Regions from separate parts of the Homo sapiens genome. Here region 2 is linked to region 1. The links come from fine-mapping of genetic effects on gene expression. Tissue or cell type: ovary. Region 1 holds a variant in brackets; the other region holds the start of a gene. All regions are shown on one strand. Distances are between the middles of the regions.

Evidence for each region. PIP is the estimated chance that this variant, and not a neighbour inherited with it, causes the effect.
Region 2: it holds the start of CENPP, and the variant in region 1 is fine-mapped to the expression of CENPP in ovary (GTEx, PIP above 0.99).

What each region holds. Positions count from the first base shown.
Region 1 is chr9:91,401,443-91,406,655 of GRCh38, forward strand. No RefSeq gene overlaps it. Among named protein-coding and RNA genes, the nearest start is that of NFIL3, 20 kb to the right of the region's middle. The variant T/C (reference allele first, on the strand shown) is at 2,297.
Region 2 is chr9:92,322,927-92,328,058 of GRCh38, forward strand. It overlaps CENPP (centromere protein P), which reads left to right and starts at 3,027. Exons shown (of 8, transcript NM_001012267.3): 1 at 3,027-3,179. The coding sequence starts at 3,073. NOL8 (nucleolar protein 8) reads right to left here and starts at 2,424. Exons shown (of 17, transcript NM_017948.6): 1 at 2,380-2,424; 2 at 1,097-1,283; 3 at 515-577. The coding sequence starts at 1,235. RefSeq lists enhancers at 1,706-2,594, 2,373-2,492, 2,523-2,632.

The sequences.
Region 1 (5,213 bases):
TGTTTTGCAAGCTTTAGGCCTAATTTGCATGTTCACAGCAAGTGAAGTGGAAAATATAGACAATTATCTTGATTTTTCTAGAAACACACTCATTTAAAATATCAAAAAATTCAGAATATTTTCCCTTGAATTATTTCAGTAATTATCCCAATTTTGTTCTGTATTGATGTTGGTATGATATTAGGTGCCACTTGGGGCATACAATACAAAAGCAACTACAAACTGAAGAAGCAAAAAATAACATCATGATACTTATCATACTTTGCGGAAAATGAAGAACAGGTTCATTACAATGCACCATCTTCAGTGACCCTGGCTCTGCTGGGGTTTCACTGTTGTTGAAGTGTTCAGAACACACTAATGTACCCAGGGAAGGAAGAGCTCTTTGGCTTCTCCAGATCTTTTTCTTGACTCCTGCTCACCTGCTCTCCTGACTCTCCCACCTGGATTCACCTTGAGCTGACACCCCTGATAAGTCTTTCAGCAGCATTTACAAGGTTACATTTCCTCCAGCCATTCCTAAGTGAATCAAAGGCATTTTCTTAAGCCTGGAATTCAAGGTCCTTTGGCAACTGGTTCTATGTTCATCTTTGAATTCTGTTACTAATCCTCTGAATAAATTCCCTTCTGCAATGATGCAGAGTACTTCATCACTTTACCGCCCCCTGCCCCCAACAGTAGTATTCATGCCCAACACGTCTTCCCTGCTCATCCAAGTTCTAAATTTTCCTTCTCATCTAGGTTCTTTCTTTTTTGCTTTCTTTTTATGTCTTTTTTTTTTTTTCCTGAGACAGGGTCTTGCTGTGTCACCCAGGCTGGAGTGCAGTGGTACAATAACGGCTCACTGCAGCCTTGACCTCCTGGGCTCAAGTGATTGTCCTACTTCAGCTTCTTGACCAGCTGGGACTACAGGCACACACCACCACACTCGGCTAATTTTTAAATTTTTTGCAGAGATGGGGTTTCCCCATGTTGCCCAGGCTGGTCTCGAACTCCTGAGCTCAAGCAATCCTCCTTCCTGGCCTCCCAAAGTGATGGGATTACAGGTGTGACTACCACACCTGACTAATCCAGGTTCTTTAATTGCCAAAATGTCCTTTAGTTTCTTCCCAGTTCTGTTTCCTGAGTTTCTTTGGTAGATATATTTCTTTTTTTTTTTTTTGAGATGGAGTCTCGCCTTGTCGCCCTCGCTGGAATGCAGTGGCACAATCTTGGCTCACTGCAACCTCCGCCTCTTGGGTTCAAGTAATTCTCTGCCTCAGCCTCCCGAGTAGCTGGGATCACAAGCATGCGCCACCATGCCCAGCTAATTTTTGTACTTTTAGTAGAGACAGGGTTTCACCATCTTGGCCAGGCTGGTCTTGAACTCCTGACCTTGTGATCTGCCCGCCTTGGCCTCCCAAAGTGCTAGAATTATAGGCGTGAGCCACTGCACCCAGCCAGATAGATTTCTTTCTACCTATTCTACCTCTTGATAATGTACTCTATTGGCTCTTACTACTTTTAGCATTTTGGTCTTTCCTTTACAGGTAGATTTAAAACTCTTCACAAGGAGATAGTTTCTTTTTGTTATGTTTCCTTTACAGCATGTTGCACAGAACTGGGTATCCATTAGGCGATTCATGGTCATTGAAAATTAGCAGGTAGGGGTGTTCCCTAACCCCTGAGATCTAGATAAGATGACCTCCAGGTCTTAGTTGCATGGGTCGTCACAGTCCAAGTCTCCTTCCAGATTCTGCAGGTTCCTCGGGTCAGCCTTCATGGCCATGGCCTTGGACTCCTGCTTTCAGACAAGCTGCTCTGCAGAATGCTCACTCAGATATAAAGTCCAGCAAACAAAAACTCACAAAAAGCATTTCTGAGTCTAGTAGGACCTACTGAAAATCTAAGGAGGAAATATTCTGGACTGTTTCCATTCGGCAATGGAAACTATTTCAAATCAGACAGTGGCCTTCTGGGTCCTGTGGCTGCCCACCCACAGGGAGTCTGCATTGGCTCTTTAGCCAGGCAGGGTTCCCTCCCTTCTCTTTTCTCCTCCATCCTCTTTCTTTCAAAAGCAATCCTCCCCGCTGCCCTAAAAAAGCACAAATCACCACCATCATCTGACTCACTTTCTCTGCAAAGCAACTTACCTATGTTTGTGCCAGGCATCTACAAACATCACGGTTTTTAGCATTTCTGCTGGGATCCCAGTATCATATCAAAGTTCTTTTCTCAGAAAGAAAGTTCCCTCTCTCACTAGAAATCTGACATAGCTGTTAGAACAACTTTGTTTTTTAACCCTGTTATACTGAAA[T/C]ATGTTTACTTCAGGGGTTATTAATTTTGAGGTTCCTTCCTGTTCTTCATCTCCCTTTTGTTAGATTGCTATGTTATTCTTGAACAACTTCCTTTTTCTCCCTCCTTTCCTACCATGATTTCTTCCATGTACTCTTTCAAAAGTTTCTTGACCTCCAGAACTTTGGACTTTATTAAGGTTTTTTCCCCAAAGTAACCTTTTCCTTCTCAAGTGGATCAGATTGACAAAAGTGAGGTATAAAAAATGGCCGTCATACCTGTCTGGGCTACTTAGCTGAAATAGTTTACTTTAGAAGGCTCTACACAAGTACTTCTGTTTGCCTCTCTGTAGACTTATCGATACTCAGCAGACAGTAACCACTCTTTGCCGGTCTCCAGCATGACTTAGCAGTGACAGCTTCTCTCTCCCAACTTTCTAAGTAGCGCCTCTTCGTCAGGAAGTGTCGTCTATTTTCTGGTGCTCATACTACCCCGGGTCTTATTTTCACTAATTCTTGAATTAATTTTTTCCTTACATCCACTAGAATCAAAATAAGCAACCTCTGGGAATTACTGCCAAACTCTCTCTCTCTTTTTTTTCCCTCGAGATGGAGTCTTGCCCTGTCACTCAGGCTGGAGTTCAGTGGCATGATCTCAGTTCACTGCAACCTCCGCCTCCCGGGTTCAAGCAATTCTCTTGTCTCAGCCTCCCAAGTAGCTGGGATTACAGATGCGCGCACCACGCCCGGCCAATTTTTATATTTTTAGTACAGACAGGCTTTCACCATGTTGGCCAGGCTGATCTTGAACTACTGACCTCAGGTGATCCGCCTGCCTCAGCCTCCCAAAGTGCTGGGATTACAGGTGTGAGCCACCGTGCATGGCTGACTCTTTAAACCAGTTGTATTTTTTATTACCTTTCCAGAGATATCCTTGTGTACCTTTTTCTGGGAAGACTATATGGTTCATAATTCTGCATGTTCTCTTACTTCTGTATCCTCACTGGTATTTTGAGTATGCCACAATTTCACATCCTTGGCAAGATTTTTTTTTTCTTTTTTTTCTTTTTTTTTGAGATGGAGTCTCGCTCTTGTCACCCAGGCTGGAGTGCAGTGGCACAATCTCAGCTCACTGCAACCTCTGTCTTCTGGGTTCAAGTGATTCTACTCTCTCAGCCTCCTGAGTAGCTGGGAATACGGGTGCCCGCCACCACACCTGGCTAATTTTTGTATTTTTAGTAGAGACAGGGTTTCACCATGTTGGCCAGGCTGGTCTCGAACCCTTGACCTGAGGTGATCCGCCCGCCTTGTCATCCCAAAGTGCTGGGATTACAGGCGTGAGCCACCACACCCAACCACAAGTTTTTCTTATTTAAATTTTTTTGGTGCAAGTAGCTGGTGGCCCAGCACAAGACATCCCAGTGGTAATTAATACTACACTTCAACAACTCCCCATCTCTGCCCCACAGAACACAAAGCAACAAAAACCAGGTGGGTGCTGCCAATAATTTTCATTTCTGAGAAATAATTCATAGTTTTCAAAAAATGAGCTTAACAGCTACTAGTTTTTTAAAAAATGTAACATGATTTCTTTTAAGGTTTTAATTAACAACGGCTGTGTGTCAAAAAGGTGCCCATTTGTGAGGAATCTGACTTCAGGAGAGGAAACACGTGTGCATATCCATGAGCAATGGAAGACCTACGCTGATGGGGGCTGTTTTAATTTGGGAATGTTTGCTGGTTGAGGACAAAAAAGAATAAAGTTATTACACAGTTATTATATATCTATACAAGTAGATGCTTAGACAGCAGTTTTACTGATTGACAGAGCAAAGTCACTTTGGATACTCCCTTGGACTCCTTCCTTTTCTCATGCAGGTTGGAGAGACGCCTTAGTCTCATTTCCCGGGTATATCGGGGGAAGAACAAAGTGCCTGACCTGACCGCTGCTTTTCATGGCCAGCTGGGAGAGTTTCGACAAGTCAACCTCTCAGAGTCTCAGCATTCCTCTTTATAAAAATGGGCACAACAATGAAAAACCGAAAATCAAAAAAGGCCAAACAATGGGCACAAGATGGCTATGCAGCTGTGCAGCCTTCCCGCGGGGCGCATGCGCATGCGTGCACTGCACAGGGGCGCTGTGGGCTACCAGGGCGCAGGCCACCCCAACCACCCCCGCCCCCGGCCGCCGACTCTGCCCTGCGCTGCTCCCCACTGCGATTGGCCTGGCTGGTGGCTGTGGCTGCTGTGTCCTCGCCCAGCCAATGCCCCTGAGGATCACTCAGGTTCCCCACAGGGCTCTCCTGTTCAGTCACTGGGGCGGAACCCAGTGGGAGCTTTCTCGGGTTGTGACTGACCGCAGCTTCCTCTCACTATCTAGGCCTGCCGGATAGCCACCTTGCTGGGAATTCTTAAACCTTCTGGAGCTCTGAGGTTTGTGTTTCTTATTTTTGAATATAGTTATACATTTATTTGGTTTTAAACACATTTTCTCTCATTCTTGGGGGCTCTGTGAGTGGGAAGGAGAGGCGGTGGTGTTTGGTTGGTTGACATCATGAAACCAAAGTATCACGGTGTAATTTTACTTTGCGTTTCTTTGGTCTCTAGTGGGATTGGAATTGCTTGTTTATGATATTCCTTTTATTCCTAAGGAGTTACATTTTTTTTGGGGGGGGGGGGCGATAAGTAAGGTCTTGCTCTGTTGCCCAGTCTGGGGTGCAGTTGTGCCATTGCAGCTCACTACAGCCTAGAACTCCTGGGCTTGAGCGATCCTCCCTCCTCAGCCTCCTGCAGAGTTAGGACTACAGGCATGTGCCACCATACCCAGCTAATTTTGGGGAGGTTTTGGGGGTGGGGGTAGTGACAGGATCTCACTATGTTGCCCATTCTTGGCTCAAACTCCTGGACTCAAGCAATTCTCCCACCTAGGCCTCCCAAAGT
Region 2 (5,132 bases), 920 kb after region 1:
CTAGAATATGTTACTGTGTCAGCGGCAGTATGGATTATCTCCCATTCTTCATTGAAGGCCACTGTTTGCCCTTGACTTTACTAAACTTATCAACAAGAGATTTCACAATTTCAAGGATACGGTCTTACAAGGGTGTATTTTAAAGCCCCCTCAAGAGTGTTTAGTGACAAGGATTAGCTGTCAAAGAAATGATCAGACTGAGGGGGAATGTGGCATGATATTCAGTGGGATATATGTAACAGGCAGTTTCTATGAAAGTTTGGTCCCTTGTCCAAAATATTTGAGAATAGCAGTTTTAAGTAAACCCACCAGTAAAGTGCTACCATGTCTGCTGATGCCAAATGGAATGGACCTAAACCTGCTGAGTTATACGATACTGGAATTCTCTTCATCACTGCTGTCCCTCTGGATAACGTGAAAAATGGCTGTGGAGGTTTAGATTTAGAACCAGTTATTCCAAGTTACAGAGTCATACAAACTGGCAAACAGTATAGAAAATATATGATGATCTTACATTTTTTCAGGTCCGCTTCTGCTACACTGATGTTGATATATGCAAAAACTTTCTGTGGGTTTCCTAAAAAACAAACAAACAAACAAACAAAACAATTTATTTAAATTCTTATCCAGAGAGCAATGTAAAAACGGTTGTTTCTAAATTAAAAAAAAAAATAGCTCTTGAAAACTTATTATTTCAAAGATAAACCTTGTTTTTTATTGGCTATAAAAATAAGCATAATTATCAAAATATTCCAAAAAAAAAAAGAAGAAAATGTCCAGTAGTCAGATAAGGAAACATTTTGATTGTATGCTAGTGATAGTCTACTTAACGGGACACTTAATCCATGTTAGAAAATTCTAGTTCTCAAAACTGGAAGTTAATATGTTTCTGAAATCAGATGTTTTAGAATTTGGAATTTTTTCTTATTTCAGAAACAAATTCTGGTCAAGTTCCACATCACACATTATACCTCCACAACATCACTTAAAACTTTTGGTGTTCAGAGCTAACATTTATCTTGGGGTTGTTTTATTTTCTAGCACTTAACCTGAGTTATGTCTGCCTATAACTGCCCAGTGAAGGACCATAAATTACCTTGGTCATCTTTCCGTGTGATGATCTCCACATCCGAAACTTCTCCAAATCTGCTGAACTGATTTTGTAGGTCTGCCTCAGAAATGTCCTGGCTAAGGCCACCCACATAAAGGCGCTTCGTTTCTCTGTTCACTTTCATGAAGGCTGGGCATATACTTGGGTGTGTTTCAGTGGGAAAAGTAATTTTCTGTATACAGAGAAGAGTTCTTTCCCTTAGTTCTTCTAAAATCTAACAAAACAACTACTTCCTCTGAACCTTCTGTATCAAATCCGTCTCCTGGATCTGTATTTCACTTCCTATTGTATTACTTCCAAATTTTAGTCTTCGAGGTTTTGCCCAAGCCCTACATCCACATCTTTCATGAATGCACTTTGGAACAGCAACCCCATACCCATATAGACACAGGTACAGACAGAGTTTTTTTCCTCCAAATGGCCATAATATTACACTCTATCCCTCTTAATTTTATGTATTCATGTTTTTAGATGTTTTTCCTTGACTCACTCATACATTCATTTACTGTCTTTAACAAAGTCTGACAGAAACAGGATGTAACGCACTAAAAGATAAAAAGAGCTAGCCTACCTCTTCCTAATTGTCTCCACCCCCAACCTACCCACCCCAGCCTTCTTCCTCCTAGAAGACCCAAAGAAGTGAATAGAGAGGCTAGGAGCTCCTTATAGTCACAAAAGAATAAAACAAATGGCACAATATTATGTCACAATAAAAGTGCTGCAAAGTGGGGTTCAGACACAAAGATCAAGGGATATAGCGAATACAGACTTGTGTTTTTGCTATGTGCCTGCATTGTACAAAGTAGTTTGCATGTTTCCCATTTTTCAGGAGAGCAGAAGAGGTTAAGTCACTTCCTCAATGCCATACCGAAAATTAGTGAATCCAGGATTATAATGCAGGTCTACCTTCAGAACTTGGAATTCTTAACACTATACTATGAAGGTTGCTGTATCACAGGGGACTCAGGAAAACTTTTCCAGAGGTACTAGGGCCCATCATAGTATCTCTCATTTCGTTTAGCACCCGGCAGGCGCTCAGCTCTCGCCCTTCCCTTCCCCAAGAGCTGACAGACTCTTTCCAGAAGAGACTCCCAACCAGCGTCCACCACATGGCGTGTATTCTGGGCAGAACTTCGGCCTACCTCTTCCCGATAGTCTCCGCCCCCAGCCTACCCACGGCAGCCTTCTTTCTCTGAGAAGACCCAAAGAAGTGAAGAGAGACTAGGAAACGGCCCTGTGACTTCTCATGCCCGAAACCCACTCCTCACCACGTCGTTCACCTAAAGCCAGCGCCGCTGCAGCCCCTAACTTCTGGTCACGTGTCCCAACGGAGCATCCTCTCTTCCTTCCTACTCGATTTCCAACCCAGCCTCCTAAGGTTCCGTTACCACAATTCAGTTCCCAAGAGCTTTTAATTTCCTTTTCCGTCCTCCCACCTTCCCTGACGCCTCCGTCACCTCCCCCTCAACGACTGCAAAAGAGCCTAAACCAAAATCCCCTAGTTTCTATTGAACACTATCGCTGTGTGTACCAATTCCTGGACTAGGTCGGCGTAAGAGAGGAAGTAGGTGAAAAAAATAAAGAGGCGCTCCCCTCCACGTGATCCCAGCCCTGCCTCTTTAGTGAGGCACGCGGCCGGGCGGCTCCAAGGCTGCCGGCTAGGGTGAGCAGCGGAGCGCTTGGGCTTGGAGTAGCAAAGAACGCGCTCTCCAGAGAAAGTATAGCCACTGCTTAGACAGCCAGGGAAACGTGTGCGGGGAAGTGGAGGACTCAGGCTCTCGTGCGAGAGCGGAGTTGGACGTGCAGGGCCGCTGGGGTCACGCGGAGCTCTCCCGCCTCCCCTCCGCGTGAGCTCTGGGATGGTCCGCGCCGGGAGCGCGCGCGAGGCTTGAAGCGCGGGTGAAGCGCGCAGGTCGGAGTGACAGCTGCGCTGCCGGCCCGGCTGCGGTCAGCAACGCGCCATGGACGCAGAGCTGGCAGAGGTGCGCGCCTTGCAAGCTGAGATCGCGGCCCTGCGGCGAGCGTGTGAGGACCCACCGGCGCCCTGGGAAGAGAAGTCCCGAGTCCAGTACGTGACCACCCCAAGTCCCCCAGGGCCCGCTGGCCAGGGTTCCCGGGCCAGGCGGGTGAATCTCCACAGACATCCTCGGTCTCCTACTCCCAGCCCTAGAAAGTGGGCATGAACTGGCATTGATCCTGTCATGACGATGGCCTAGAGTTGGGAGCAGCGCGTACGGCGCCCAGCTGTAAACGCATTGCAGGGTATTAACTCGTTTAATCGCAGTCGTCTGTGTGGATGACTGACAAGGAGGAAGTCTTGACTATATCCCTAGCTAGATAATTCCGCCTCCAGTATGCAGAAGTATCTCTAGTTGGGATTTAATAACTCCGTTTGGTTTCATGGCATTTGTTTTGGTAGGTCAGCTAACCATCTCAACTGATAATGACTTTGTGTTTACGATGACATAAAAATTCCTTTGAAAAATAACTTCGGTAAAAAACTAAGTTGATAAAAGAAAAGTAGTTAATATAGACTGCAGGAGAATTTGACATTCCTCTGAGGTAGGTGCTACTGTTAGCCCTGTTTTATAGTTGAAGAAACTGAGGCTCAGAGAAGTTAGGTAGCTTGTCCAAGGTTCCAGAGAAAGGAATTGTCAGAGATGGATTGGGACCCAAAAATTTTACTCCAAAGTCTGGGCACTTTTGGTTTATTGAAGGAGAGGGAGAGAAAAGCTCTGCAACCGTAATTATGTATTATCATCTCAAACATAGAAGCCTCTCGAAAACATAAACTGTCTTCAATTTTTGAGTCAAGAGTAATTTGACATAGGTGCAGAAAGAATGGGATTTTTCCTGAGCTAACTGGAGAAGAATTGGTAGAAAATGGGAAGGAGGAGATCTACAGAAAATGTCTGCGTGCGGTCATGAAAGTAGAGGAAGCTGTGACTGGTTAAAGGGAGAGGAAAAAGGTGTGCTCCTCCACAAATGAGAGTAAATGTATTAAAGACCCTTGCTATTTGAGGTGTGCTCCACAGATGGGACGCTTTAGCATTACCTGGCGGTTTGTTAGAGCGACATCCTGACCTACTGAATCAGAATCTGCATTTTAAAAAAATACACTGCCCTAACAGAGGATTTGTGTGCACACTTGGAAGTTTAAGAACCAGGGAAAAATAGTTTCTTTACTGGCCACAAGATTTCATTAGTCCCCATAGTAGTGTCAACTGAAAAATCATGAGATCTGCAAATTTAGAGAGACTATTTCTTAAAAAGGGTTACAGTCTGCAAAGTGGCCATCCTGACAGGCTAGGAAGCATAGTCTCAGGCAAAGCAGAAAGGCCCACACTTTGGAGGAGGAGGGGTTGGGGCAGGGATTTATGCTGTATGAGTGGGCTAGGTATACATATTCAACAGGTTATAGGAGGGGCTATGAATATTCACGAAGGGAGATGTGCTCACCTGTACTGAATAAAAATGCATATTACATGCACTCCATATTCATTTTGGGAAGCTGACTTAATATTTAAATGCATTACAATTAGGCCCTGTACGTCAAAAGTTGAAGGAGGGAAGCAAAGGTACTTAAGTACACAGGCCTTGTAAACCTGTTAGAACAAGTCCATGGTTGGTGATCTTATCAAAAGAAAATTTTTGAAATCATTCTCTTGTCCTATCAAAGCCTGTGGAACAGGGGAATCAGTTAGCATCTGGTGGTGGATGAACTGCAATTATTTCAATATTGCTTATCTGGAGGCCAGTGCTAGTGAAAAAAATATTGTGGCAGTTAGAACATAGTTCATTCTTTTAAAGGTAGGGGGTATGTGACTTAACCCTTGCCTGGCATGGCCTTAGGTCTTGTTTATAATTTGGTATCTTATTGCCACAGAGTCCGTTCTGCAACTCTTACGATCTCTATTTTAACATTAATGCTGGTCAGTTGTTGTGTCTACATCCCAAATAGGAAGGGGTATAACGAGGTGTGTCTGACCTCCCATCCTGTCATGGTTAAGAACTGAGTTTT